Linked DNA regions of Homo sapiens. The protein of the gene in region 2 interacts with the protein of the main gene of each other region in a biochemical or structural test. Each region holds a gene or a part of one and is shown on either strand. Other genes may lie near its edges. The genes, in order: POLI, MAPKAPK5, TLK1, YAP1, HSPB1 and PARK7.

What was found.
Region 1: the proteins of MAPKAPK5 (region 2) and POLI form a complex in vitro, tested with the Homo sapiens proteins (one large-scale study listed by BioGRID).
Region 3: the proteins of MAPKAPK5 (region 2) and TLK1 form a complex in vitro, tested with the Homo sapiens proteins (one large-scale study listed by BioGRID).
Region 4: of the proteins of MAPKAPK5 (region 2) and YAP1, one has a biochemical effect on the other in vitro, tested with the Homo sapiens proteins (one study listed by BioGRID).
Region 5: of the proteins of MAPKAPK5 (region 2) and HSPB1, one has a biochemical effect on the other in vitro, tested with the Homo sapiens proteins (4 studies listed by BioGRID and IntAct).
Region 6: the proteins of MAPKAPK5 (region 2) and PARK7 form a complex in vitro, tested with the Homo sapiens proteins (one study listed by BioGRID).

Annotation. Positions count from the first base shown.
Region 1 is NC_000018.10:54,275,423-54,280,359, forward strand, and holds part of POLI (DNA polymerase iota isoform a (long)), read left to right. Parts: intron 1-2,280; coding exon 2,281-2,433; intron 2,434-4,937. UniProt on the Homo sapiens protein: Error-prone DNA polymerase specifically involved in DNA repair. Plays an important role in translesion synthesis, where the normal high-fidelity DNA polymerases cannot proceed and DNA synthesis stalls. Favors Hoogsteen base-pairing in the active site.
Region 2 is NC_000012.12:111,868,679-111,873,615, forward strand, and holds part of MAPKAPK5 (MAP kinase-activated protein kinase 5), read left to right. Parts: intron 1-74; coding exon 75-183; intron 184-1,592; coding exon 1,593-1,682; intron 1,683-2,406; coding exon 2,407-2,502; intron 2,503-4,937. UniProt on the Homo sapiens protein: Tumor suppressor serine/threonine-protein kinase involved in mTORC1 signaling and post-transcriptional regulation. Phosphorylates FOXO3, ERK3/MAPK6, ERK4/MAPK4, HSP27/HSPB1, p53/TP53 and RHEB.
Region 3 is NC_000002.12:171,049,005-171,053,941, reverse strand, and holds part of TLK1 (serine/threonine-protein kinase tousled-like 1), read left to right. Parts: intron 1-88; coding exon 89-181; intron 182-3,767; coding exon 3,768-3,878; intron 3,879-3,991; coding exon 3,992-4,128; intron 4,129-4,937. UniProt on the Homo sapiens protein: Rapidly and transiently inhibited by phosphorylation following the generation of DNA double-stranded breaks during S-phase. This is cell cycle checkpoint and ATM-pathway dependent and appears to regulate processes involved in chromatin assembly.
Region 4 is NC_000011.10:102,220,916-102,225,852, forward strand, and holds part of YAP1 (transcriptional coactivator YAP1), read left to right. Parts: intron 1-2,706; coding exon 2,707-2,837; intron 2,838-4,937. UniProt on the Homo sapiens protein: Transcriptional regulator with dual roles as a coactivator and corepressor. Critical downstream regulatory target in the Hippo signaling pathway, crucial for organ size control and tumor suppression by restricting proliferation and promoting apoptosis.
Region 5 is NC_000007.14:76,300,312-76,305,280, forward strand, and holds HSPB1 (heat shock protein beta-1), read left to right. Parts: upstream 1-2,361; 5' UTR 2,362-2,401; coding exon 2,402-2,765; intron 2,766-3,490; coding exon 3,491-3,554; intron 3,555-3,672; coding exon 3,673-3,862; 3' UTR 3,863-3,981; downstream 3,982-4,969. UniProt on the Homo sapiens protein: Small heat shock protein which functions as a molecular chaperone probably maintaining denatured proteins in a folding-competent state. Plays a role in stress resistance and actin organization.
Region 6 is NC_000001.11:7,959,234-7,964,659, forward strand, and holds the start of PARK7 (Parkinson disease protein 7), read left to right. Parts: upstream 1-2,477; 5' UTR 2,478-2,560; exon of another isoform or gene 2,561-2,848; intron 2,849-3,529; 5' UTR 3,530-3,552; coding exon 3,553-3,642; intron 3,643-5,426. UniProt on the Homo sapiens protein: Multifunctional protein with controversial molecular function which plays an important role in cell protection against oxidative stress and cell death acting as oxidative stress sensor and redox-sensitive chaperone and protease.

The DNA.
Region 1 (4,937 bases), on a different chromosome or scaffold from region 2:
TGCCCATCAAGAGAAATAGCCAAATAAACTAAAACATCTGTATAATGGATATTATATAGCCATTAAAAAGAATTCATTGGTGCAATACTATTTGACTGATGGAGATAGGGCTTGTTGAGTGAATAAAAGGCAAGGTACAAAGTCATGTATCATGTTTTTCCAAATGTGTAAAATTATGGCCTAAATGCCTCCTCTCATATTCATCATATAGATGAAGAAGAGTAAATCATTGTTTTGATTTGCAGTTTTCCATGAGTAAGGTTGAGTATTTTTTCATATATTTTTGGTCATTTATGTATTTTTTTCTGTTAACGTATTCACTTGCACCTGTTTTTAATTTGGGTTGTTCATCTTTTTCTAAGTACTAAGTACCTAGTACTTTTTGTGTTAGGTATTTTTTGAAAAAAGTTACTTTATCAATTTTTCTCACAGTATTTTTCTGAGTTGAAGTAGGCGCGTAGCCAGTTAGTCCTTTACTGTATTTATCTCTGATCTGTTTATAACCTTATTATTTATTTCATATTTTGATGCTACTGCATATATACCTTTCTTCAAGGTATTTTTTTTTTCTGTAATTACAGACTCCTCTTTTGGGCCCTATATAATTATATGTTTAATAAATGTATCTTGCTTATGAAGTTGATACCAAGAAAGAGGTTAACTTCAGGAATGGAGGCTGGGCATGGTGGCTTATGCCTGTAATCCCAACACTTTGGGAGGCTGTGGTGGGGTATCATTTGAGGTCAGTCTGGGCAATATAACATAGCAAGACCCTGTCTCTACAAAAGTTAAAAAAAAAAAAAGTTAGCTGGTAGCATGTGCCTGCAGTCCCAGAGGCCGAGGTAGGAGGATTGCTTGGGCCCAGGAGGTCAAGGCTGTACTGAGCTGTGGTGTGCTACTCCACTCCAGCCTGGGCAACAGTGAGACCCTGTCTCATTAAAACTACAGCAACAACAAAAACCTTCAGGGACGGGATAATTAGGGATTTGTCCTGTGACCTAAAATCAGTCAATATTTAGTGATCCACCAGCTTCGTGCATGATTCTGTATTTAACTTGCTTTTCTATTTAGTGCTTAAAGCCTTATCCTTTATTTTTCTTATGTAGTATTCTTTTGATAAACTCTTGTTTTCTACATGTTACTTTGCATATCAGGTATATACTTTTGAAAATAAATTGCCGAAATTGATGAAGGAAATGCAAAACAATCATTTTCTTTGATTAGACATATTGTCAGTCTGTCCTGAAAGGAGGTAATAGTTTTCTCTAGGTAATAGTTTTCTCAGGAGTGATTTTTGGTGTTTGCCATGTCACATTGTTACCTTTATTGGTTTCCCCTCACATTGTCAATGTTGACATCAACAAAACAAAAAAGCACCTTTGGTGTTTGTGAAAAAACATGATCTATGTGGAATGAGATAGTCCTTTTATTTCTGAGCTTCAGATTATATGACCTTAAGAATCTATGCATTTTTGTATACTAAGAGACTTGCATTTGTTTTCTCTTATCCAGCTGGTGTCAGTAGAAAGTGATTCAGAGGGAAGTGAAAAACTTTCTCAATGATTTTAAAGTTATTAGTCTCAATGTTAATATATGAAAATTGATAGTTTTTTTGAATTTATTTTGAATTTTGGTTCAGCTTAATCTAGTAAACATTTGACTTGAGGACTAGATATTGTGCTAGACGCTGGGCATTTGAATACCTGTAAGTTGTGGTTCATCTCTGCCTCTCTGTCCTAAGGAATATTCTTGGGAATGGCTAATAAAAATACCACGTTATAGTATATTTTGAAAGTTGACTGACTTTCTGTTTTATTCAGTAATAATTGGACATTTTAAATATTATTTTGTTTTGCCTCTTTTAAACTCTTGGAGAAAATATAGCTAAAATATACTATTACTTGTTTTTAACTTTCCTGAGCAGCCTATAGTTTATTCTTTGACACATTTCTTCAAGGTCACCAATTTACTATAAGCATTGATATTTAATGTACTACAGATATAAAAATTATAGGTGTAGAAGATTGAGCTAGATATATTGCCATGAATAACTGCCCTAGGAATGTCATTTTTAGACTTTTTTGAAAATATTGCCTTTATACAAGATGTGGTACAGAAAAAACGTCAATTAACTGAGGGCTTTATTAAAGATATTATGGAACTATGAATGTATATAAAACCTTTAACAATAAATTTGATAAATTTTTAAGCACTAGATAGTTAAATTTATCCTAGTTATAACTTCATTTACATTTGTGCTCCAATATTATTTCAATTTAGAATTACTGGAAGAATTTAGTCCAGTTGTTGAGAGACTTGGATTTGATGAAAATTTTGTGGATCTAACAGAAATGGTTGAGAAGAGACTACAGCAGCTGCAAAGTGATGAACTTTCTGCGGTGACTGTGTCGGGTCATGTATACAATAATCAGTGTGAGTGGGTTCTTATTCATTCTACCTACTAACCAAAAGTACATACATTTCTTAATGTTCAGTGAGTTCGCTGTGTGATTCTGAAAGATTCATGACTTTTGTTGGAGGTATAGTTATATTTAGTCAGTAATCTGTCTAGGACAGCTAAAATTAGGTGCTGCTATTCCATAATAAGTGTTAAGATTTTGATGACATGTAGCTCAATGCTCTGTGCACTTTTCATTTGCACAGAGCATTGTTCCTGTTCATCTGCACAGAGCATTCATCTGTGCAGAGTTTTCGTCTGACACAGTGCATTGGTTCCCATTTTAGAAAGCCATACCCAGCTGGGCACAGTGGAGCGCCCCTGTAGTCCCAGCTGTTTGGGAGACTGAGCTGAGAAGATTGCTTGAACCCAGGAGTTTGAGTCCAGCCTAGGCAACAGAGCAAGATCCCATCTCTTAAGGAAACAAAAAGCCATACCTCTGTAGGTCATTCTTAAGTTGTAAGAGTTGGCTTCTTAATATGCTTTTTGGAATAATTTTTTATTATTCTAAAACAATCTCTAAGCAGAGTTTTCAGGTAGGCTAGATTTGCCTTTGATGTGTCTTTTACATGTTCCCTTCGATTCCCCTTTGATGTGTGTTTTACATGTTCACTTCGATTCCCCTGAGACCCTCATGTTGCTCTCTGAATTCCCAAGTTAGCACTTTTGGAATGTTGTCCAGGGCTATCTGCCATGTGCTAGAATCTTCTCCAAGCTCCTATTTAATCTGTTCAAATAATCTTTGTCAAAGTTAGCAAGAAAGCAGAATGGTTTGTCTCCTTCATATATTGAGATATGAATGACTGATGGTGTTTCCAGTGATATTTACATTTGAAAATAAGCTGCAGTAAGCACCAGTGAATATCTGATTAGGCTTTCAGACATCTTATGACTCTGCTGGTGACTCCCCTATCATACCACATACAAGACAAGGTACTCTGCTGTTGTGTAAGACTTGTCTGACCCTTTTGCTCTTAAGCCTCCCCATGCATTTCCTCTTATCCTCTTTTTTGAGAACTAGACATCGGTCTACAGAATAGTTCTCCACAGAAGAAAAGCAGTAGAACCACAGTTTCTAGAATACATGGAGCTTTTCCTGTATCTTTTGTACTTGTGCTCATTTGTAACTTAAAAGGGCTAACTAGCAAGAATATTTCAAATATATTTCTGTATAATTTTTAAGGCAAACTTGGATTTTATTGGTTAGAGTACATTATAGAGAGCTAGGTTTTATATCCCAAAAAGGGAAATGTGGAATTATTGATTAATTCTTCCTCTTTCATACAGATTTTATTAAAATTTTTTGTAAACCTACAGAAAAGTTGACAGAATAGTACAAAAAATACCCATTATGTCTTTTCTTTTTTTTTTTTTTTTTTTGAGACAGAGTCTCACTCTGTCGCCCAGGCCGGAGTGCAGTGATGTGATCTCGGCTCACTGCAACCTCCACCTCCTGGGTTCAAGCAATTCTCCTGCTTCAGCCTCCCGACTAGCTGGGACTACAGGCATGTGCCACTACACCCGGCTAATTTTTTTATTTTTAGTAGAGACGGGGTTTCACCATGTTGGCCAGGCTGGTCTTGAACTCCTAATCTCAGATGATCCGCTTGCCTTGGCCTCCCAAAGTGCTGGGATTATAGGCATGAGCCACTACTCCTGGCCCATTATGTCCTTTCTTGTAGATAAACCAGTTGTTATCGTTTTGCCACATTTGCTTTCTCTTGTTCTCTCTATGGATTGCTTGGTTGGTTGATGAGCTATTTGGAAGTAAATTGCAGACATCCTGACATTTCATCTCTAAATACTTTTAGCGTTAGTCTCTTTGAGGTTAGGATGGTTTCATGTCATTCCAACACTGTTTTACACCTAAAGCAAATTTATTTTTATATAATTTTCTTACACTTTTCATAAAAGAGCTCTAAAACTGTGTACAGGTCAGAGATTGTTTCTAGCAGCATATACTGCTAGTGCGTGGTTAAGATTTAGATCTTTAAAGTATAATGTTAGCTTTCTTGTTATATAATAATACTTCTATGCCTACTTACGGGTAAATATGAGTAAAAGTTTTGCCAATGTCAGTAGGAATTTTTTTATGAGATCAGTTTTCACAATGTGTTAATTATTAAGCACTCCCACTACACAGTCACTATCACAGGCCCTTGGAATTTGCTTATTGAATTTGTTTACAGTATTCCTATGAAGCATGAAAGAGATTAGTCAAGTGGATAACAGGGTGGCAGTGATCTCTTAGTCCATTTAGTGTTGCTTTAACAGAATACCTGAGACTGGGTAATTTATAAAGAAAAAAAGGTTTATTTGGTTCATGATTCTTGTGGCTGGAAAAGTCAAGGTTAGGCCTCTGGTGAGGGCCTCAGGCTGTTTCCACTCATGGTGGAAGGCAAAAGGGAGCCAGTGTGTGCAGAGATCACATGGTGAGAGAGGAAGCAAGGGCTGGGGGAGGTGCCAGGCTCTTTTAACA
Region 2 (4,937 bases):
TAATGTTTCAGGGTTTTTTGTTTCTTTTTCTTTTTTTTTTTTTTAACTTAACAAAATCAAATGCTTTCAAACAGGGCCCGACTCTTAATTGTAATGGAGATGATGGAAGGGGGAGAGCTATTTCACAGAATCAGCCAGCACCGGCACTTTACAGAGAAGCAAGCCAGCCAAGTAACAAAGCAGGCAAGTTAACCCCAGGTACCAATCAAACTGCCACCAAAGTTGGTTAACAAGCACAATTTCATTGGGGGGAAGAAAAGAAAACTTAAAGAAAAGCTCTATTTGACTTCTCATTGCCTGCTTTGTTATGTAATCAGAAAAGATGTTTTGACAGGAGAAATGTGACCCCTTTTATACTTGGGGGTGGGGGTACTGTGTTCTTAATTGGTTGTCAACTGTTTCCTGAGGCTGCTGTGAGATTTCAATAAACTCTGGAAGGAAGGCATCTTAACTGCTTTGTAGACTGCAGTTATCTTTAGGCATGTAGCTACCAAGTACTGTTATTGGACTTTGCAATAAAATGCTGCTGATACCACCTGAAAGATTGTATGGTATAAAAATGTATTTTAAGAGAATTGTACATAAGATGCTTCCTGCATGTGAGCCACCTTTCTGTGATTTCTTCAGATTTAATAATATCCTAAGATCTTTGTAATTCTGAATTATTCCTGGTTATATTCTATGTTGACATCACATTTTATTGCTGTAGAAATGATTTATGTCACAAACAATACTAGGAATCCAGCTGATAATCACTTCTTGCAGAGGTGAAAAGCTAAACCCTCAAGGCTTATCTTCATACCAGGCAAGCAAAGCAAAGAGAATTAGGAAGCACAGCCCAATTGCTTCTTAATAAAAAGTTCTTCCAAGTTTCCCATGAACCTTAAGCAATTTTGGATGCCTCCTTTCTGGTAGGGAGGAACTGATACTTGGATTGCTGAGAAAATGCCATATGGAGAGTTAAAGAACAAGTAAAATCTGTTCTTTCTGTTTGATTTTTAAAATTATACCTTTAATTTTTTCAAATATTAGGATTAAAGGATGAGCTCTGATAATCTTCTATAAAATAAAACCCCTTCAAATCCACATAAACAGGCAACATTTTCAACAAGCATGATGAGCAAAATGAGTTTCCAGTATGAATTGGAAAAACCCAGTCAGCTGATTTCTTGACCCTCAGCTCCCTGGAGAGTGCCATTCTTGTCTGAGCCCTGCTGTGGGAACTGCGCCTGCTGACCATTGCTCAGCTTAGGTGTTTCTTCTGCAGTGTCTGTCATACCTCAGATGAATGAAAGTGGGAGCATTTCATTTTTCCCATTTCTTACAGGATTTACCCATCAGTTTATTCTGACAAAGAATTGCTGTACCATCATATTTTTCTTTCTGTCTGACAAAATACAAGTTGCAGTTAAACTAAGCTTAATCCATTCTGTTTCTTGGTATTCCAAGTTTTTCTTAATTTCTGCTTTAAAATTGAAAGTGAACGCAGTCTTAATGAAGGCTTGTTTTTTGACATCCTGAGTTCTCTACGCCAGGTGTATTAAAGAGTGGTCTTTTCTAAGAAGCGACTGTTTCATTGTGTCTTTTTTCAGATAGCTTTGGCTCTGCGGCACTGTCACTTGTTAAACATTGCGCACAGAGACCTCAAGCCTGAAAATCTGCTTTTTAAGGATAACTCTTTGGTGAGAAGACTGTTTTTCTGCATTTTAGTGCTGCAACTCTTAACATAGTTCAGGAGTGGGTGTGTTTGGAGCGCTCTGAATTCATGGTGAAAAAGCTTTAAGCCAAAGTGCTTCAAACAGCTTATTTCTTCAACTCGTTCCCTTGCTAGAGGCTCAGAGAAGCTGTACTACTGTACTCCCGGCATTGATAATTTTGGATGATACTGATATGTATTTGTGGGACTTAATGATTTTGGATATTATTTGGAGGACCTTTGGGAAGGGGCAGGAATCTGTATGCTGTTATATATTATCTCGTTTCATTTGCTGTTTTCCCTTTCAGCTCTGTCCCCTGCCCCATGTCTCACCAGATAAGTTGCTCTGTCTATCATGAAGCTTATGGCAGATATTAAAAGTGAAGTAGCATCCCAGATTGATGAGAGGTGATGGGCTTATAGAGTGAAGGGTCCCTAGGCCAAGACCTTGACGTTAGTGCTGCCCTTACAAGTTCTAAAGCAAAAATAGCTGTGTGAGTGGGTAGGAATTCCTTACTTCTGCATTACTAAGGACAGTTCCTCAGTGTGAATCATTGTCTCCAGACCTGGGGACATGTTATTTTCATAAGTTCGCATCTCAGCTGGAAAGAAACTTGTTAGATCTCAGGGTAACATGTCTTACACCTGGATTTTCCTTTAATGTTTACTGAGCACTCTGGAGCAGTGACTCCTTTTTTTTTTAATTTCAGGATGCCCCAGTGAAGTTGTGTGACTTTGGATTTGCCAAGATTGACCAAGGTGACTTGATGACACCCCAGTTCACCCCTTATTATGTAGCACCCCAGGTAAGCATGTGCGGTTTCTGTCCTAAGATCTGTCACCAAGCTGCCCATCAACTCGTGTTCCTTCTATTCTACAGCACAAGTAGGCATATATTACAGATGGGAGGGGGAGAACTTAGCTTTAGAAACCTACAGATTGCTTTATTTGGTGTAGATCTTTTATTCTTTTAAAATCAACTTTAGCCAGGTGCGGTGGCTCACGCCTTTAATCCCAGCACTTTGGGAGGCTGAGGCGGGTGGATTACAAGTTCAGGAGATGGAGACCATCCTGGATAACACGGTGAAACCCTGTCTCTACTAAAAAAAATATAAAAAATTAGCCGAGTGTGGTGGCGCACACCTGTAATTCGTGCTACTCAGGAGGCTGAGGCAGGAGAATCGCTTGAACCTGGGAAGTGGAGGTTGCAAGGAGCCGAGATGGCACCACTGCACTCTAGCTTGGGCGACAGAGCGAGACTCCGTCTCAAAAAAAAATAAATAAAATAAAATAAACTTTATTGAGGTATGATTTAGAAGTATGATTTACATACAGTAAAATACCTCCACTTCAAGGAGAGTTTGATGAGTTGTGACAAATATATACCCCATATGGCGACCACCACATTGAAGATGTGGAACACGCCCCTCACTTCACAAGCTGCCTGTGCCACTTTGCAGTCAGTCCCCTCCCAACTTAACCCCTGGCCCTAGGCAACCACTGACATGCTTTCTGTCATTATTGGTTAGTTTTGCCTGTTGAAGAATTTCAGAAAAATGTAATCGTGGACTTTGTATGCTTCATTTCTTTTGCTTAGCATGTTTTTGAGATTTGTCCATGTTCCTGCATTTATCACTCGTTAATTCCTTTTCATTGCCAAGTAGTATTTCATTATATACCTAAGCTGCATTTGTTTTTTCCATTCACTGACAGGATTTTGGGTTGTTTCTCATTTTTGGCTATTATGAAGAAAGCTGCTAGGAACACTTCTTTTACAGTTTTTGGGGGACATGTTCCCCCATGCCCATATCTTTTTTCCAAAATGGCTATACCATTTTATGCGTCTACCAGCAACGTATAGAGTTCCAGTCATTTCACATTTTTACTAACGCCTCATGCTTGTTGCTTGTCAGCATTTGTCATCTTAGTCATTCTGGTAGCGGGCAGAGTATTACTTCATTATAGTTTTAATCACGACATTGTCCTGATGGCCACTATTTTGGAGCACTTTTTGTACATGTGTATTGGCCATTCTGTTGTAAGTATGGGCATTCATCTTTTGCCATTTTGTTATTGTTGGTTTCTTGTTAAAGAATTGAGGTATAAGAATTTTAAAATATTCTGGACACAGGTTCTTTGCCATATGTATGTTGTATTCTTACTGCTGCTGTAACATATTGTCACAAACTTAGTAGATAAAAACAACAGAAATGTATTATCTTATACTTCTGGAAATGAGAAGTCTGAAATGGTACTCAGTGCTATAATCAAGGTGTCAGCAGGGCTGTGTTCCTTCTGGAGGCATTTCTTGCCTTTTCCAGCTTCTAGAGGCTGCCTACATTATTTGGCTTGTAGCCTCTTCCTTCATCATCAGAGCCAGTAGCATAGCATCTTCCAATGAGTGTCTCTCTCTATGACTTTGACCCTCTTGCCTGCCTCTTATAAGGACCCTACTGATCACATTGGCCTTACCTAGATAACTCCCCATTTTAAGATTCTTAACTTAATTGTTCTGCAATACAAGGTAAAATAATCCCAGGGATTATAACATGGACATCTTGGGGGGCCATTATTCTGCCTTCCATATATATATCATGAATATTCATCTCAGTCTGTGACTTGCCTTTTAATTTTCTTAATGGCCTTTGAATAGCAGAAGTTTTGAATTTTAATGAAGTCTGTTTCACCATTTTTTTTTTAATGCTTAGTACTTTTTGTTCCTAAGATCCACAAGCATAAATATTTTCTCTGATGTTTTCTTATAAGAGGTTATAGCTTTAGCTTTTACATTTGGGTCTGTAATTCATCTGAGTTTGTGTGTGTATGAAATGAGAGACCAGGTTCTTTTTTTCCCCCTTAAGGGTGTCAAGTTGTTGCAGCATCATTGGTAAAATGTTTTTTACAAATCATCATTTGTAAAAGGATTTGTAAAAGGATTGCATCATTGAATTGCAGTTTTTTGTTTGTTTGTTTGTTTGTTTTTGAGACGGAGTTTCATTCTTTTTGCCCAGCCTGGAGTGGTGCAATGGCGCGATCTCGACTCACTGCAACCTCTGCCTCCCGGGTTCAAGGAATTCTCCTGCCTCAGCCTCCTAAGTAGCTGGGATTACAGGAGCCCGCCACCATGTCCGGCTAATTTTTTGTATTTTTAGTAGAGACGGGGTTTCACCATGTTGGCCAGGATGGTCTTGATCTCTTGACCTCGTGATCCGCCTGCTTCGGCCTCCCAAAGTGCTGGGAT
Region 3 (4,937 bases), on a different chromosome or scaffold from region 2:
CCTTTTGAATTTGGAGTAAAATCTAGTTTTATGTTTGCTTGAAACAACATATATAATGGAGATAATAAAATAACTTTTTTTCATTTAGACTGATCTCACAATGCTGAAATTAGCAGCATTAGAAAGTAATAAAATCCAGGACCTGGAAAAGAAGGAGGGACGTATAGATGATTTGCTCAGGGTAAGTAATGAGTCATAGAGGGGAAAAAAATTGAATAAATTATTTGGCAACAGTCAAACTGTTCAGAAAATACTTAGCATTGTAAAAAAATCTGTAGCTAGGCCAGGCGCAGTGGCTCATGCCTGTAATCCCAGCACTTTGGGAGGTCGAGGCGGGCAGATCACAAGGTTGAGAGATCAAGAGCATCCTGGCCAACATGGTGAAACCCCGTTTCTACTAAAAATACAAAAATTGGCTGGGCATGGTGGTGCGTGCCTGTAGTGCCAGCTACTTGGGAGGCTGAGGCAGCAGAAATGCTTGAACCCGGGAGGTGGAGATTGCAGTGAGCTGAGATCACGTCACTGTACTCCAGCCTGGCGACAGAGTGAGACTCTGTCTCAGAAAAAAAAAAAATTCTGTAGCTAGAACTCAATAAGCTTTTTCTGTTAGTTTAAGTACATGATTGAAAAATACCAATTTTAAAGTGAAATATTTTATTAGATCTTCAATAAATTGGGAATTGAGAAACTGTTGGAGAACTGGAAGTTAATAACATTTATATGACCAACTACCATAACACAAATAGCCATTTCATGTTAAAGTTTATTGATTTTATTATATGCCTGACATCTGATACCTATACGATGAAGTAACTGCTGCAGTTCTGTAGGATTTTTAATGGAAGCTTTATTTAAAAATACATCTAGAAGTATACTTAAGAATGTAAGGGTTTAAAGCAGCAGTTCTTACCCCTTGATGCTCCTTAGACTCACCAGTTGGGAAGGGTGAAAGTACTAATGCCTGAAACTCTACCCTGAGGGGTTCTGATCAAGTTGATGATGATGTAGGTCTTGGACATTGGTAGTTTTAAAGGCTCTCCCAGATAACTTTAATTTAAGACAGCATTGAGAACTACTGGTGTAGAAACTCGATAAAACCAACACCTGTGATCCTACTGTATTTGACAGTGTCTTTAAAACATCCAGTGTGTCTTTTTCCTGATCCTGTCATATTTACTTTCTCACACCCATTTACCATTTAACCACTATTTTAAATTTTGTATTTGTGATGCCTTGGTGTTTCTTTATGGTTGTATTAAATATGTGCTTACATTCTTCACAACATATTATTTCAGTTGGTTTTTGAACGTTAAGTGAAATTTTCCAGTATGGACCCTTTTGCCCAGCTTGTTTTCAATGAAATATATCAGAGAGTCATCCACTTTGATGAGTATAACTGTAGTTTGTTCATTTCATTGCAATATTGTAAGGTGTTACAAGTATACCATAATTTCTGTATCTTTTCTGCTTTTAGTTGACATTTTATTTCTACTTTTTCTAGTATAAACAGTTCTAAGAACATTCTTTGTACATGTCTTCAGGGCACATATGAAAGAATTTTTCTGTGGTATATGTTTAGGAAAGACATAGCCAGAGTACAGGGCATACGCATTTTCCATTTTACTGTATAATACCAGTTATTTCTCAAGGTTTTTTGGTCTGGTCTTTTTTTTCCCCCGCTAAGTGACAGGGTCTCACTGTGTCGCCCAGGCTAGAGCACAGTGGGGGATCATAGCTCACTGTAGCCTCAAACTCCCGGGTTTAAGCAATATTTCTACCTCAGGCTCCCAAGTAGCTAGGACTACAGGCTCATGCCATCACTCCGGGCTGATTTTTTTTTATTTTGTAGAGCTGGGAGTCTACAGGCTGGTATTGAACTCCTGGCCTCAAGTGATCCTCCCACCTTGGTCTCCCAAAGTGCTGGGGCTATAGGCATGAGCCACCATGCCCAGCTGATCTTTCAATATAAATTATTAGTCTTACTGAAATTGGTTTTGGGTATGGCATGATGTAGGGTTTCATTTCAATTTCTTTCTATATGGATAACCAGTTGTTCATCCCCATTTAATTAAAAGCTCATTCTTATACTGCCAGCTCTATCATCATAAAATCTTGTTTCCAGTATACAGGTGGATCTGTTTCTGTGTTCTGTATCATGTTTCCTTGTTCTGTTTGTGTCTCTACACAAGTACTGCAGCATCTTTTTATCATTGTTGATAAAACAATTTTTATCAGTTGTTTTTGGCTGTTAGTAACAGTGAACATAAATAACAGTACTTCAGATGAGATAGAAGCTTATTTTTCAAGAGAAGAACAGAAGTGGGCAGCTCAGATATTATTACTCCTCAGTATCATAAGGGACCTTGTCATTGTTAGTTCATGGCTTATATCTCAAAGGTCACATCAAGGTTCAATATATCTATTAGGGTCACAATTATATCTGTGTTCTAAGCAGATAACAGGAGGGAGGATGGGAGCAGAGAACACAAAGCACAATTCTGTGTGCAGCCTTCTTGGATATCTCATTGAACAACTTCTGCTTGCATCTCATTAACCATCCTTCGCTCTAAGGGAAGCTGGGAACTGTAGTCATTTGGCTAGGCAGATAGCAATCCAGGATAAAACATTGAATTTCCATTATTAAGGAAGGAGGAGGCTTGGGTGATCATAGTTATGTAGCTTTATGTTAAGTCATGATACATGGTTAAACAGATATCCTCTTCTTCTTTTTGGCTATTTTTGGCCCTTCACAGTCTTAGAGAAATTTTAGAATCAGGTTTCAAGTTGCATATGCATCATACACACACAGTGTTGAGATTTTGTTTGAATTGCTGAGGGTCTATTGGTGCTAAATTCTGTTTCCTCTTCCTTGAAAAACAACTGTGTTGGGTATCTAATTTTAGGTTGGCAATTCTTTTCTCTCAGCACTTTTAAGATTTTGTGCCCTTGTCTTGTGGATTCCACCATGGTTGGCCTAGACTTTTGATTCTCAAAGTGTGATCTTCAGACCAGGAGCATCAGTATTACTGGAGAACTTATTAGAAACGGAAATTTTCAGGTCCTTCCTGAGACCTGATTCAGAAGCTCTGGGAATGGTTCCCAGTAATCTGTTGTAACAAGCCCTATAGGTTATTCTCTTGCCACTGTACTAATCAGACTCATCTTTTGATGTTAGAAGGAAGCCTCTTCTCTGAGCATATGGCCACCTACAAAGTGAACAGAATTAGTATCCTATTGCTAAGGAAGAATGGTGAGGACAGTTGTTGGGTAGGCAACTTGTGTATGTCATTTATAAGTTCAGTGGAGAAAATATTTTGTTAGTTATAAGAGATAGAGGAAAACCCACATTTAATTTGTTAATTATAAGAGATAGAGGAAAACTCACATTTATTTTTAAGTGATAGACACTTTATATACCATATTTTAGTTATTTTTAACAAAGTGAGGTAGATTGTGTTGCTTCTATTTAGAAATAAGAAAGCTGAACTAAAGTTCTTATAACTTAGCCAAAGTTAACCTTAGAGTATGGATTTGAATGTATGGATATGGATACAAATTTCCCTGTATGTACTTTCCACTACACACTTAAGTAACATTTAACAGTATTATCTCATGGTTAAGTAGGCTTTTTTTTTTTCTCGTATCATACTCAGATATTTAATATTATTAGTCCTATCTGTATATAATTTATTTAGAACATTAAAACTATTTCTAAGCTTTTCATATTCCCCAGTCTAGACCTCTTGCATTTTCTACTTATGTCATAGGCTAACTGTGATCTCAGACGGCAAATAGATGAACAACAAAAATTACTTGAAAAATACAAAGAACGATTAAATAAGTGCATATCAATGAGCAAGAAACTTCTTATTGAAAAGGTAGGCTAAAAGTTGAGTAAATTTTCGCTTTCCCTTCATTAGCCCCTTTTGCTTTGTATGCTTTTATAAATTAATGAATACAATTGAGTGATGATTTTTTTTCTCCTTTTCAGAGTACACAAGAAAAGCTGTCAAGCAGAGAGAAGAGTATGCAAGATCGATTACGCCTCGGGCACTTTACAACAGTTAGACATGGCGCTTCATTTACTGAACAATGGACAGATGGTTTTGCATTTCAGAATCTTGTGAAGTTAGTCATTCTTAACATTTAAAAGTTTTTAGTATTCGTTTGGGTTTTCATTACTTTAAAAGATTATAGATTTGTAATTATGCTCTCCAGTTCCTCGCTACTCTGAAATCATAGAATTTAGTACCTTTGAAAGGGATATGAAACCAAGAGTATTACAGTTTTAGCTTAGTAATTTCTTGATTAATTAGCAGTCATCTATAGAATGTAATATATTATTCTAATTCTGACTTTCCGAGATATTAATTGAACCTTTAGCTTTACAGATGATGTTTTGAGAGGGAAATTGTTGAAAATTTAATTTTCACTGGAAGATTTGTGTGTGTGTTTATTTCCTAGGATTTTCCTACTTAGTTTTTTCCCATTCCCCAATCCTTACATGTTAATGTTCAGCACTTGCCTGCTCTCTATTCCTAAGGGAAAAAACTTCTCTTTTGCCTCAGATATAATAACTGATTTATCAGTTAAACTGAACATGTGGCTTTAGCGTTTCTGAGGTAAACTCTATTTATTATTTATTTATTTTAATTTCAACTTTTATTTTAGTTTCAGGGAATATATATGCAGGTTGTTACAGGGGTATATTGCTTGATACTGAGGTTCGGGGTACAATTGAACCCACCACTCAGGTAGTGAGCATAGTACCCAGTAGTTTTTCAATCCTTGCCCCTGTCTCTGCCTCCTTCATCTTTGTAGCCCCCAGTTTCTATCATTCTCATCTTTATGTCCATGTGTCTCCAATGTTTAGCTCCCACTTATACATGAGAACATGCGGTGTTTGGTTTTCTGTTACTTTTCAGATCAAACTTTTA
Region 4 (4,937 bases), on a different chromosome or scaffold from region 2:
CCAATGTGATGAATGCAGTTGGAATGAAGAGAAACACTGATCATCGTCTCAAAACATGACTTAAGATTTTAGAGTTGGTTTGGTTTCAAATAACAGGATCTTAGTGGCTGTGCAATGGGTGTTTGAGTGGAGTGGAGATGAAGGTCACTGGAATCCAGAAGGTTCAGGAAGCTGTCAGGTTAAGTGAATTGTCCATTTAATACTGAAGCATGTTAAGAGGCATGGAGAATACTTGGAGTGGCAAGAGGCTTTGACCAGACTCCAGAATTTTCCCGTATATAAGATGGAGTAACGAAGAGATCAGTAAATTTGAGTACAAGAAGCAGTTTACCTTGCAGGGAAGACAGGCAAACAATTTTGGCATTTGGCCAAGTCCCTAGGTTCCCTCTCAGGACATTGGTGTTTGTTTTTTTTTAAAGTACAGGATTGAAAAGAAAAGGAATTTCATTGATACAGTTAAGAAAATATTAAATAGAAACTTGTGATATAACGTGCTTCTTTTTAATGTATAAATAACAAGATCTAAGGCTGGGTGCAGTGGCCTATGCTTGTAATGCCAGCACTTTGGGCGGCCAAGGAGGGTAGATCATCTGAGCCTGGGAGATTGAGACCAGCTGGGCAACATGGCAAAACCCTGTCTCTACAAAAATACAAAAAATTAGCTGGGTATGGTGGTGTGCCTCTGTGGCTGCAGCTACTCATGAGGCTGAGGCAGGAGGATCACTTGAGCCTAGAAGGTCAAGGCTGCAGTGAGCTATAATTGCATCACTGCATTCCAGATTGGGTGACAGAGTGAGACCCTGTCTCAAAAAGATTAAAAAAAAAAAAAATCTAGAAGCACATCTTATAACGTAACTACTGTAGCATTGAAATAGCAATGATCATAAATGGTATTTTAAAATATTTGCAACAACTACAATGTGATATGAAAACATTTATATGTTCTATTGGTGAAAAGTTAGGTACAGTGAATACTAATGGTGCATACTACATTGGAGAAAATGTTGACAAATTTAGCGAAAGTTAATGTGTAATTTTTTTTTTTTTACCCCATTGAAGTTCAGAGACTCTCTGAATTCTGTCATGGTCCGCTGGTTAAGAAACTCTGGTTTAAAGGATGGTATATCCAGAAGGCATAAACCTAAAGAAAAATAAGTGGTATTTGCATGCAGGAGAATTGTAGTTTAGAAGTGGCAGCGTAGAGCTAGGAGAAGCTTTCCATACTTCAGGACCCCATGGCGATTGTGGAGGTGAGGGCTGGAGATGGTGGGGCCGTGCCTCAGTGAGCAGACTTGGCTCAGAAAGCTGTGTGGAAGGATGACGGAGTCAGGCCAGTATCCTTTGTGATAAGAAACTGTATGTATTTCAAATCAAACCCAAAAAGTAGAGGGAAAGAAAGCTGATGGTCTAGTAGAGATGATGTTTACGATAGGTGGAGAGGCACAGTGAAAATTCTTAGGAGGGTAAGAAACAGTGAACAGATAAAGGAGAGAAAAAGGACAGAGTAGTAATGAGTGTGCTACGGATGGGTCACAGTGAGATGAACTGTTTTTGAGGTCCTGGGCAAATACAGGCTGAAACCTGGGAGGTTTGGAAGCCCTTGAAGGCAGGCCTTCTGCAACCATCAGAGTAGCAACCTACAGCCTTTGCTCAGGTTTACAGGGAGAATCCTGCTGAGAAATTGTTGGATGACCCTGAAGAAATTTTACCCCATTTTAAATATTATGTTTGTGGTGGAGAAGCCTTGGGTTTGTGTTTTAACTTCTGATGTCTTTTTTTCATTTTCCTCCTCTCTCCCTGCTAGAGGATGGAACATATTCTATCCAGCTCAGGATAGAAAAACCTAAAGTCAAAATGAGACATTTAATAGCAAAGTGTGAAATAGTGTTGGGGGTTGGGGAAGGATTGGTGTCTTATAGTAAAATCATCAGATGCTATTCTTCCTACTTCTTTTTTTTTGGCGGGGGAGGGGGTCGGGGGGTTCCAAACACACAAAACCATATAAGAGTTGTCGAGTAAAAGCAAACTTTAAGAATTATTTTTTTAGGGCCGGGCGCGGTGGCTCACGTCTGTAATCCCAGCACTTTTGGGGGGCCAAGGCGGGTGGATCACGAGGTCAAGAGATCGAGACCATCCTGGGTAACATGGTGAAACCCCGTCTCTACTAAAAAAAATACAAAAAATTAGCTGGGCGTGGTGGTGCGTGCCTGTAGTCCCAGCTACTCGGGAGGCTGAGGCAGGAGAATCACTTGAACCCAGGAGGCGGAGGTTGCAGTGAGCCAAGATTGCACCACTGCACTCCAGCCTGGTGACAGAGTGAGACTCCGTCTTGAAGAACAAAAAAAAAAAAAAAAAAAGAAGAATTTTTTTTTAAAGACCAGACTTGCCATTCTATAATAACCCAAAGGAGGATTTGGGAGTATCTTCCAGAGTAAGGAAAATAACAAAAAGAAAACAAAGTAGCAAAATGTATATAGGGTGGGGGGTGGTTAATATGACTAGACAGACTTTAAATATATGTAACTTAATTTTTAGTCATTTGAAATGGATAGAATTAGGTCATTCTGATTGGGAAATGTATTAACTTTAAAGTAGATGTTTTTAATCTATCTGCACGGTTACTCTGATGAACGTTTTATTTCTTTAAACCTAACATTAAATGTGTTAATCAGTAGATTGATTCTCTTTGGCTTTATTTTTAATTAGGAGTTAGCCCTGCGTAGCCAGTTACCAACACTGGAGCAGGATGGTGGGACTCAAAATCCAGTGTCTTCTCCCGGGATGTCTCAGGAATTGAGAACAATGACGACCAATAGCTCAGATCCTTTCCTTAACAGGTTGGTGAAAGTTGCTACTGGTGAATATCTGAAAAGGATCATTGCTTTAAAATCATTCTGCTTAGTGCTTGTAATAGGCTATTTGGAACATCTGTGTGGGCCAAAAACCATAGCTGTAAATGAATCTCTCTGTAAATGGCAAGTACATGCAGAGTTGAGGATTAAAAGTTGTCTCCTGTGAGAGGAAGTGAACTGTTCAGACTTGTACAAGGGATACTTATTCAAAGTCATGACGTGTTTGCTTCTGCCTATACTGTTGACTAACAGTTACTTAAAATTACAGAATCATGAAGGAACATGTGAATGCCTTTCTGTGAAAGCAAATGAATTTCATGTTAAACCTACTTAGGATTGCATTATAAGGATCACTGGAAGGAATTTTCCACATAGCTATTCAAGCTAAAACGTTTCACCCAGCAGCACTGTAAGGCCTCATGTTCTTAAGGGCTATAGTCCAAGGAGATAAAATGTAAGGTTGTGCCTCTTTCAAAAATGCACTAAGATTAACGGCAGTATTTGAAAATAACATAGCTTAGGGATGCTTCTTAGTGAGTTACCACAAATCCTGGGTTTCAGACAGATTGCAATATTACATAAACTGCCATTTTGAAGTCTGTAAGCTGAAACAGGTCATATTCTTTGCCTAGGAAGTCATTTAAGATTAAGATTTAACTAAAATTCCTTCTTCTAGGTTGTGGAGTTTCAAACTTTTTAAAATATGGGATTAGTTTACGCTTTGGATTCCTTTTCTAACTGATTTAAATAACACACTTTCTTAAATACTCAAAGGTATTTTGCACTAGGAAAACTATTACACCACCTTTTCAGTTCTCACCAATTGAATTGGAAACTTAGTAATTCCAAGAGAAAATATCTTATCCTGCTAAAAGTATTTAGTGCAATAGAATTCACCATTTACTCAGTTTTTAAGATTAGTACTGGTGGCCTAGTTGGAAGGTTTGATTTTGAAGACCATCTAAAATGTATTTTAAGTTTGTATTTACTCTTCTGACATACACTTTAAAGTTCTAAAAGTAAGTGTATTTATATAAGATTATAGTTCTAGACTTAAACTGAGGCTAATTAAGAGAGGCATAGCCTCAGAACTTTTTTTCCAACAAGGAAAATTTCATATCCATGTAATTCCAGTACCTGTCTTGTTGAAGGGGCTATATTAATCCCAGGGATAAAAATTAGACCATTTTAAAAATGGATAGGCTGCATATCCTTCTGACAGTCACTTATGAAGATTTTTTTTCTTAAAACTTTTGATGAGAGCTGGGCTACAATTTGAGATTCTATTTTCTGGGAAGATCAGAGTGGCAGATAATCAGTGTTACTAATCTAAGGGCAGAATTGTATATGCATTCTCTGCAGTACCCCCAGTTTCTAATAATAACATACATCTGACTTTGACTTTTTTTTTCTTTAAAAAAAAAAACAACTCTTGGCTGGGCATGATGGCTCATGCCTGTAATCCCAGCACTTTGGGAGGCCAAGGCAAGTGGACCACCACCTGGGGTAAGAGTTCGAGACCAGCCTGACCAACATGGCGAAACCCCATCTTTACTAAAAATACAAAATTAGTTGGGCATGGTCACGCATGCCTATAATCCCAGCTACTCGGGAGGCTGAGGCAGGAGAATCGCTTGAACCCGGGAGGCAGAGGTTGCGGTGAGCCGAGATCATGCCGTTGCACTCCAGCCTGGGCAACAAGAGTGAAACTTGGTCTCAAAAAACAAAAAGACAAACAAAAAAACCTCTTGATGGTTTTTCCCTTGTTTACTATTTGATTTATGTATATTCCTTAAGCTCTAAATACTTTTTGCCCCAACTTGCCTTGGCATTGACTCTTAGTAGTAATGCTGAGTTCCCTTAGTTCCCTTTTACTTTTACCCTCAAAGCTCACTCAGATGTCCCCCTCCATGAAACTTTTACCCTTTACTTCTAAGCTCCCTGTTTGTTCTGAAAGCACTGTGCTTACATCTGAGTTCATATAGCCCCTAAATATGATTCATTAGTATATTTGTTCATTTCCCTCCTTGAAGTTGTGAGCCTCTCACAAAACATTGTTTGTAGGTGGTGGTGATTGTTAACCTC
Region 5 (4,969 bases), on a different chromosome or scaffold from region 2:
AATAATTATGATGTACCAGGCTCCGGGCCAAAGTCATCACCTGCATTAGGTCACCAAATCCTCAGGCCAACCCATTACAGTCATGAGTCACTTAATAACAGACACATTCAACAAATTCCTTGTTAGGCAATTTCATCATTGTGGGAACATCTCAGAGTGGACTTACACAAACCTAGATGGTCTAGCCTACTACACACCTAAGCCATATGGTCTAGCCTACTGCTCCTAGGCTACAAACCTCTACAGCATATGACTGCACCAAATATTGAAGGCAGCTGCAACATGAGGGTAAGTATTAGTGTTTCTAAAGATAGAAGATGGCCAGGCGCGGTGGCTCACGCCTGTAATCCTAGCACTTTGGGAGGCCCAGGCGGGTGGATTACTTGAGGTCAGGAGTTCAAGACCAGCCTGGCGAACATGGTGAAACCCCATCTGTACTAAAAATACAAAAATTAGCCAGTGTCGCGGCACTTGCCTGTAGTCCCAGCTACTCAGGAGGCTGAGGCAGAAGAATCACTTGAACCTGGGAGGTAGAGGTTGGAGTGAGCCTAGATCAGGCCACTGCACTCCAGCCTGGGCGACAGAGGGAGACTCCATCTCAAAATAAATAAATAAATAAATAAATAAAACATAGAAGATGTACAGTAAAAACACGGTAATTGTTTTTGTTTGTTTGTTTTGAGACAGGGTCTTGTTCTGTCATGCGGACTGGAGTGCAGTGGCACCATCAGGCTCACTGCAGCCTCGACCTCCTTGGCTCAAGTGCTCCTCCCACCTCAGCCTCCTGAGTATCTGGGACTACAGGTCCACGCCACCATGCCTGGCTAATTTGTTCTGAATTTTAGTAGAGATGGGGTCTCACTGTGTTGCCCAGGCTTGTTCCAGCCTTCTGGCTTCAAGTAATCCTCCCACATCAGCCTCCCAAAGTGCTAAGATTACAGATGTCAGCCACTGCACCCAGCCAGTAATATAATTTTATGGGACCACCTTCATATTTGCTGTCCCTTGCTGACTTACACATCTTTATGCAATGCATGACTGTTACCATCATTATCATCTCTATTTTCCAGATGGGGAAACTGAGGCACAAAGAATCTAACTTGCACAAGTTCATCTGCTTAGTGATGGAACAAAGATGTGAATTCAGGCAGTCTGGCTTCAAAGTCCACACGCCTAACAACCACACCAGATTACTAGATTGCTTTTTTCTTTTTTCTTTTTTTTTTTTTGAGATGGAGTCTCACTCTGTCACCCAGGCTGGAGTACAGTGGTGAGATCTCGGCTCACTGCAACCTCTGCCTTCTGGGTTCAAGCAATTCTCCTGCCTCAGCCTCCCCAGCAGCTGCGATTACAGGCGCCCGCCACCACACCCAGCTAATTTTTGTATTTTTAGTAGAGATGGGGTTTCACCATGTTGGCCAGGCTGGTCTCAAACTCCTGACCTCTGGTGATCCTCCCACCTCGGTCTCCCAAAGTGCTGGGATTACAGGCGTGAGCCACCACGCCCAGCCCAGACTGCTTTATTTTTGTATTTGTATTTATTCATTTACTTATTTTGAGACAGGGTTTTGCTCTGTAGCCCAGGCTGAAGTGCAGTGGTGCAATCCAGCTCACCACAGCCTCTACTCACCGGGGTTCAAAGGATCCTCCTGCTTCAGCCTCTGGAGTAGCTGGGGCCACAGGCATGCACCACCATGCCCAGCTAATTTTTAAATATTTTTTGGTAGAAGTAGGGTCTCACTATGTTGCCCAGACTGGTCTCAAACTCCTAGCCTCAAGGGACCCTTCTGCCTTGGCCTCCCAAAGTGCTGAGATTACAGGCATGAGCCATGCACCCAGCCCCTTTTTAAAATTTTTTTGAGAGACAAGACTTTGATCTGTTGCCTAGGCTGGAGTGCAGTGGTGAGATCATAGCTCACTGCAGCCTCAACTCCTGGGCTCAAGCACCAGACTCCTTTTATCACATTCTATCTCACACGCGTGTGGTTCCAATCCTGCCTCTGCCACTTCTCAGTTGTATGCCCCAACCCAACCTGTCTGGCTCTGTCCTCCTTAACAGAAGGACGGCCCTGGCCACGGGCCACAGCCAGCAACGCTTAAGCACCAGGGCCGGCGAGTGCCCTGCCGTGGCACGGCTCCAGCGTCGCGCTCTCGAATTCATTTGCTTTCCTTAACGAGAGAAGGTTCCAGATGAGGGCTGAACCCTCTTCGCCCCGCCCACGGCCCCTGAACGCTGGGGGAGGAGTGCATGGGGAGGGGCGGCCCTCAAACGGGTCATTGCCATTAATAGAGACCTCAAACACCGCCTGCTAAAAATACCCGACTGGAGGAGCATAAAAGCGCAGCCGAGCCCAGCGCCCCGCACTTTTCTGAGCAGACGTCCAGAGCAGAGTCAGCCAGCATGACCGAGCGCCGCGTCCCCTTCTCGCTCCTGCGGGGCCCCAGCTGGGACCCCTTCCGCGACTGGTACCCGCATAGCCGCCTCTTCGACCAGGCCTTCGGGCTGCCCCGGCTGCCGGAGGAGTGGTCGCAGTGGTTAGGCGGCAGCAGCTGGCCAGGCTACGTGCGCCCCCTGCCCCCCGCCGCCATCGAGAGCCCCGCAGTGGCCGCGCCCGCCTACAGCCGCGCGCTCAGCCGGCAACTCAGCAGCGGGGTCTCGGAGATCCGGCACACTGCGGACCGCTGGCGCGTGTCCCTGGATGTCAACCACTTCGCCCCGGACGAGCTGACGGTCAAGACCAAGGATGGCGTGGTGGAGATCACCGGTGAGCCCCCCTGCTCCTGCAGGGGAGAGGAGGAGGCTAGCAGGGCGGGCAGGGCCGGGGGCGTGCGGTTGAAACGGGGGTCCCGGGGGCCTGGGGAGTTAAACGTTGGCCCAGCACCGGGAAAAACAGGACTCCTGATTCCCTTGCTCAGGAATTGGGAGTGCGGGTCGCTTCTAAGGGCGCTTTCTGCTCTGTAATCCCAGCGCTTTGGGAGGCCGAGACGGGAGGATCGCTTGAGGCCAGGAGTTCAAGACTAGCCTGGGCAACATAGCGAGACGCGCCCCCCCGCCCCGACCCCGCGCCATTACAAAAAAAAAGCAAACAAAAATTTTTTTAAAGATCATCGATGAAGAGAGAAAATGCGCTTTTCTACAGAGTCCCCTTCCCACCCACAGCCCCATCCCCAGATAAGCGGGGAGTTCCCTGGCGCGGTGCCAGTTTCTAGCCGCTGAGTGGGCGTGTGCGCGGCTCCAAGTGCGCCTGCGTACTGCTCACTCCCCAGCTCCGCGCCCTGCTCCGTTCCTCCCAAAACTCTGAATCGAAGAACTTTCCGGAAGTTTCTGAGAGCCCAGACCGGCGGGCACGCCCCCATCCCCAACCCCCTCTGTTAATCCCTACCAGCCTGCAGTCCTGGCTGCTTCCAAGCAGGAGGTGGGGCCTCTGGCCTAGCGGGGCCGAAAGGCAGTCCCCTCCCCCGCAGTCTGATTTCCCTCTTCCCCCCAAAGGCAAGCACGAGGAGCGGCAGGACGAGCATGGCTACATCTCCCGGTGCTTCACGCGGAAATACACGTGAGTCCTGGCGCCAGGTCGGGGTGGGTGGGTGGCGTGGGGGTGGGGTCAGGGAAGAGGGCACAGGGACCCACCCGGTGTGTAATGTAACGCTTGCCTTTCCTCTCTGCACGTCCAGGCTGCCCCCCGGTGTGGACCCCACCCAAGTTTCCTCCTCCCTGTCCCCTGAGGGCACACTGACCGTGGAGGCCCCCATGCCCAAGCTAGCCACGCAGTCCAACGAGATCACCATCCCAGTCACCTTCGAGTCGCGGGCCCAGCTTGGGGGCCCAGAAGCTGCAAAATCCGATGAGACTGCCGCCAAGTAAAGCCTTAGCCCGGATGCCCACCCCTGCTGCCGCCACTGGCTGTGCCTCCCCCGCCACCTGTGTGTTCTTTTGATACATTTATCTTCTGTTTTTCTCAAATAAAGTTCAAAGCAACCACCTGTCACTGGCCCAGGCCCTGGTGTTTGTGGAAGGAAGCCTCAGGCACCTGCCATTTGCTGGCTTTCAGGAGTCATCTTTGCTCAGGCCCGTGCTGGGCCATGTGGGTACACTGGTGTAGGTTGCTGGACACAGGCTGACTCACATCCATAAAGACAGAGGTCTTAGGGCCGGGCGCAGTGGCTCATACCTACAATCCCAGCACTTTGGGGGGTTGAAGCAGGAGGAGTGCTTGAAGCCAAGAGTTCTAGACCAGCCTGGACAACATAGTAAGACTGTCTCTAAAAAATAAAAATTAGGCAGGGTGGTACTGCACGCCTGTAGTCCCAGCTACTCAGGAGGCTGAGGCAGGAGGATCGCTTGAGCCCAGGAGTTGTGAAGGGTACAGTGAGCTAACATCGTGCCATTGCACTCCAGCCTGGGCAACAGAACAAGATCCTGTCTCAAAACAACCAAAAGCCCAGAGAGAAAGAGTGAGACCCCATCTTTAAAAGAAAAAAAAAAAAGGTCATGATTGCAAGGTCACGATTGCAATTAAAACTGTAAGGTGGGGAAGGAGGAGGAAATAAGAGAAGCACCTGAGGCTTGAGTTCTCAGGAGCACCTAGGTTGGGTCCCAGGTGAAGGGGCACAGAGGTAATTGCACCTCAGAGCTGATGGGAGGATTACTATGTCAAAAGCTTGGCATCGGCTTCAGCACACCCCAAGGACACCACAGTGGACCTGGCAAGCTTTGAGATCTCTGTCACCGCCACACTCCCTGAGGCCAGGGCATCCCTGTTGGCAGTCACAAGGGAACTGGCAAGCCGAAATGGGGTGAGAACGGAGCCCGCAGAGTCTCGGGGTGGGGAGATTGGGCAGAGCCCTGGCCAACCGACGGGCTCAGACCTGTGCTGCTGGCTGGGCCAGCAGCTCTTGTTGCCTGTGTTTATTTCCAGCTGGCCTCCCTCCAGGTGTAGACAGGCTTCCAAGGGCCCAGTTCCCCTCTCTC
Region 6 (5,426 bases), on a different chromosome or scaffold from region 2:
ACCTCAAAGCACAGACAACAAAAGCAAAAACAGACAAATGGAATTACATCAAACTAAAAAGTATATGCACAGCAAAGGAAACAACAAAGCAAAGAGACAACACACAGAATGGGAGAAAATATTTGCAAACTATCCATTTGATGAGGGACTAATGACTAGAATATATTAGGAGCTCAATAGCAAGAAAACAATCAGATTTAAAAGTGGGCAAAAGATCTGAATAGACATTTCTGAAGAGATACAAATGGCCAAGAGATATGAAAAAGGGCTCAATGTCACTAATCAGAGAAATGCAAATAAAGACAGTAAGATATCATCTCATCCCAGTTAAAATGGCCTTTATCAAAAAGGGAATAACATGCTGAGATGGATGTGAAGAAGGAACCTCATACACTGTTGGCGAGCATCTCAATTAGTGCAGCCACTATGGAAAACAATATGGAATCCTCAGAAGATTAACTTCTGAGAAATCATAAGTTCTGGAATCATAACTACCATATGATCCAGCAATCCCACTACCGGTATATACCAAAAAGAAAGGAAGGGCCAGGCACGGTAGCTCACGCCTATAATCCCAGCACTTTGGGAGGCCGAGGCAGGCAGATCACTTGGGGTCAGGAGTTCAAGACCAGCCTGGCCAACATAGTAAAACCCTGTCTCTACTAAAAATACAAAAATTAGCCAGGCATGGTGGCACACACCTGTAGTCTCAGCTACTCGAAAGACTGAGGCACGAGAATTGTTTCAACACAGAGGCAGAGGTTGCAGTGAGCCAAGATGGTGCCACTGCACTTCAGGCTAGGCGACAGAGCAAGATGGAGTCTCAAAAAAAAAAAAAAAGAAAGAAAATCAATATATCAAAGAGATATTTGCACTCCTATGCTTATTGTAGCACTGTTCACAACAGTCAAAATATGGAATCAACCAAAATGTTCATCAATGGATGACTGGATAAATAAAATGTAAATATACACAATGAATACTATTCAGCCATAAAAAATAATAAAATCCTATTTGCAACAACATTGATGGAACTGGAGGTCATTATGTTAAGTGAAACAAGCCAGGCAAAGAAAGACAAGCATCACATGATTTCACTCATAAATGGGAAGTTGAAAAGTGGATATCATGAAGATAAGTTGGTGGTTACCAGAGGCCAGGAAGGGTAGCCAGGAGAAGGGGATGAACAGGGTGATTAATAGGTACAAAAATTGGTAGAAGTGCTGGGCAAGGTGTCAAGAGCCCCAGCATCAGAAAGTGGTCGACTTGCTGGTTGGTAAGAAGAATTTATCGACAACAATATAGGTTTGAAAAAGGAAAGTTTTATTAGAACGCTGCAGAAGAGTGCAGCCTCAGCAAGAGAGAACTGAGCATGCCGCGGTGGATTTTTCATGTCCCTTTTCGAATGTCTCATTTTTTGCAAATTCAATCCAAGTTGCGTTCATTTAGCCAGGATCCTTCTAAGCTCATTCAAGAATTTTGGGCTTTAACTATTTCCTTTGATTTAACCTGGTACCAGGTGCCAACTTTAGATAATAGGGATATCTAATTACTTCTAAATTCCTCAGATAAGGGGCCTGCTTGATGGTCACCAGGTGATCTGTGCTCTCCTTAAGAGGGAATAAGACCTAGCGTTGGCAGAGTTCTGTAGGGTGACTATAGTTAACAGTAATCTGTTGTATATTTTAAAATGTTATTATTGAAGAGAGTAACTGGAATGTTCCCAGTATAAAGACAAATGTTTAAGGTGATAGAGATCTCATTTACCCTGATTTAATCATTACACATTATATGAAAGTATCAAAATACCACATGTACCCAGAAAACACATACGTCTCTTACATATCAATAAATACAACTTGAGATTATGATGTAAATACATCTGACCAACTTGGTACTTATTAGACTTATGTGCGCAGCACTGCTCTAGTCCTGTGGGTGCAGCAGCATCAGGATCGTTAAAGAAAACAAACAATGCTGAGAAAAAAACTCACACCCCTGAGACATCCGGGTGTGAATAAATGCGGCAGAGTCGCCCGAGATCGGGAGACCAGGCGTGGGGGAGAGGTCCGGGAGGCCTGGACCAGAGTCCTAACAGACCAGAGGCGAAACGGGAAGGCGCGCCAGAAAAGGAACAACGCAAAGGGAGCAGGCGTGCACGGAGCGCGAACTAAGGAACCCCTCTGACAACCCCAGTCCCTCGGCAGTTCCAGAGACCGGCTCCTCACGGAGGGTGGCGGTAGAGACTGTTAAGCCCCGCGGGCGCCGGGGCAGGCCGGACTGTGCCATTCGTGGGGGGTACCATGTGGGACCGAGCCGCCTCACCCAGGGCTGTCCAGCTAGAAACTCCCCGGTGCCACCCCCGCCTCAGTCCGAGGTAGACTCGGCCGGACGTGACGCAGCGTGAGGCCAAGGCGGCGTGAGTCTGCGCAGTGTGGGGCTGAGGGAGGCCGGACGGCGCGCGTGCGTGCTGGCGTGCGTTCATTTTCAGCCTGGTGTGGGGTGAGTGGTACCCAACGGGCCGGGGCGCCGCGTCCGCAGGAAGAGGCGCGGGGTGCAGGTCAGCGCCAGCGGGGGCGCGGCGCATGTGTGGGCCGTGGCGCTGGGCGGCGTGGGGGTGCTGGACGGTGTCCCTGTGCTGGACGGTGTCCCGCTGGCTCAGAACCGGCGCGGGGCCTGGGTCGGGGCCGCCCTCGCTTCCGGCCTCCCAGTCGGGCCCTGTCGCTGGCGTTGGATTTGACTGACCGCCAGCGTGGTGGCAACGCTGAAGCGTCCAGAATCTTCTGCCTAACCTCTCGCCGGCATGGAACTGGCTAGCCGTTTTATTAAACTCTGTTTTGCGTGGACGGTAAACCCTCCAGATAATCTGTAAATAGGCTAAAAAAAATTCGGAACCTCGTTGAGCTGCTGTCGTTGGCAGTGAGAACTCCGCGCAGAGAGACAGATGTAGTTGGGTTGACTTCAGTGAGGGGATTTCCATCTTTCTCAGTCATTAAAAAAAGTGTTCAGACATTTAACACTGTTGACCCCCACACACAATTTTTTAGTACAGTTATAACTAAGAAAACAAAAATCCCCTCCAAAAAATTACAAGTTAATTGCGAAAGACCACATTTAAATTTTTGCCCATGAAATTCAGTTTAGTCGTTTCTCTGAAACAGTGCTTCAAAAAAGACTGTTTCCCCGCATTGTGTGAAATGCAGGAGACCCACGTACTTGTATTTTTAAAAAACCCATTTGCAACATACTATTAAAGTTGGATTTAAGAGAACATGGTAGAAGAAAATCTAAGCAATACTACACCTTTTAGCACCCTCATTATGTTTTCATCTCAGAGCAATTAAAACTGCTATACAAATCAACGTTAAGATAACTAAACTGCTGCTTTTTTCGTATTCAGTTGTCTATGAAAACCGTTTCCCTAGGAAGTACTTACTCTGCTTGAAAATGCTCCTAAACTTTAAATTTTGGGGTATCTCAGGGTTGCAATGAAAGTTTTTTGAAATCTTTTTTTTTTTTTTTTTTTAAGGCTTGTAAACATATAACATAAAAATGGCTTCCAAAAGAGCTCTGGTCATCCTGGCTAAAGGAGCAGAGGAAATGGAGACGGTCATCCCTGTAGATGTCATGAGGCGAGCTGGGGTAAGTCCCACATCGATTTTTAGCCATTCCTGTTTTAAATGTTTTTGGATTTTTAAATCATTTTGAATAAAATATTCAAAGTGCTCTATGAAATATTTCAAATATACACAAAATTTCAGAGATGACATAAGAATAAATACCTGTTGATCCACTGCTCACATTTAACGCTTGTTAATGTCTTGCCATATTTCCTTCAGACCCATTTCTCTTTTGTTTTGAGCTCTGTCGTCCAGGCTGGAGTGCGATGGCAGGATCTTGGCTCATTTCGGTCTCTGCCTCCTGGGCCCAAACCATCTTCCCACCTCAGCCTCCCAAATAGCTGAGACTACAGATGCGTGCCACCACACCTGGCTAATTTTTGTATGTTTTGTAGAGACAGGGTTTTGCCATGTTGCCCAGGCTGCTCTCCAACTCCTGAGCTCAAGTTGTCCACCCGCCTCAGGCCTCCCAAAGTGTTAGGACTACAGGCGTGAGCCACTGCACTGTCCTTAGACCCATTTCTTTTTTCTTCTTTTTTTTTTTTTTTGAGATGGTGTCTCTCTGTGTCGCTCAGCCTGGAACGCAGTGGTGTGATCTCTGCTCGCTGCAACCTCTGCCTCCCGGGTTCAAGAGATTCTCCTGCCTCACCCTCAGCTGGGATTACAGGTGTCCGCCACCACGCCCGGCTAATTGTATTTTTAGTACAGATGGGGTTTCACCATGTTGGCCAGGTTGGTCTCGAACTCCTGGCTTCAAGTGACCCGCCCGCCTTAGCCTTTTACAGTGCTGGGATTACAGGCAGGAGCCACCATGCCCGGCCCCTCAGACTCGTTTCTTAAAGAGCAGATGCTTCAAAGAAATACATTTGAAGCCCCCTTTGTAAATTTCTCCAATCCTATGCCCCTTCTTCCTTCCTTAAAGATAAGTGCTATCCTCGCACTCTTGTGTATCCATGCATGTGTGTCTTTTTTTTTTTTTTTAAGACAGAGTCTTGCTCTGTCACCCAGGCTGGAGTGCAGTGGTGTGACCTCAGCTCACTGCAACTTCTGCCTCCTGGGTTCAAGCAGTTCTCTGCCTCAGCCTCCCAAGTAGCTGGGATTACAGGTGCGCACCACCATGCCTGGCTAATTTTTTGTATTTTTAGTAGATGGGGTTTCACCATCTTGGCCAGGCTGGTCTTGAACTCTTGACCTCGTGATCCACCCACCTCGGCCTCCCAAAGTGCTGTGATTACAGATGTGAGCTACTGCACCCGCCCCCACGCATGTCTTTAAGGTAGCATTTGACCGTGGTTCTCATTTTGCGTGTTTATATATTATCTCTCTCTATCTAAAAATAGTGAACAGTGAAGTGAAGTAGAACTAACTCTGTGCCAGGCAGCATTCTAAGTGCCGATAAACCTTACAACAATGTCGTGAGTTAGATATCACCATCCTCATTTTACAGTTGAAGAAACTGAGGCACAGAGACATAAATAATGTACCCACATCACGTAGTAAGTACAAAAGCCAGAACTCAGACCCAGGCAGCCTGGCCCCAGAGTCTGTTAACCCTATACTCCTCTGGTTCTCAGAAATGAAGATACATGTCGATTAAGTTTATCCACTTAAAATTGCTGCTTGGTGTTGCACTGAATGCCACAATCTACCCATTCCTCTAATTACAGCATTACAATTCTGTAATACGTATTCTTGTGTAGGTTTCTTTGTGCAAATGTGAGGAAATTTTTCCAGGTTATATATCTAAAAGTAGAATGACTAGGCCGAAGGATAGCCTGTAGTCAGCATGACTAGGTTTTGCCAAGT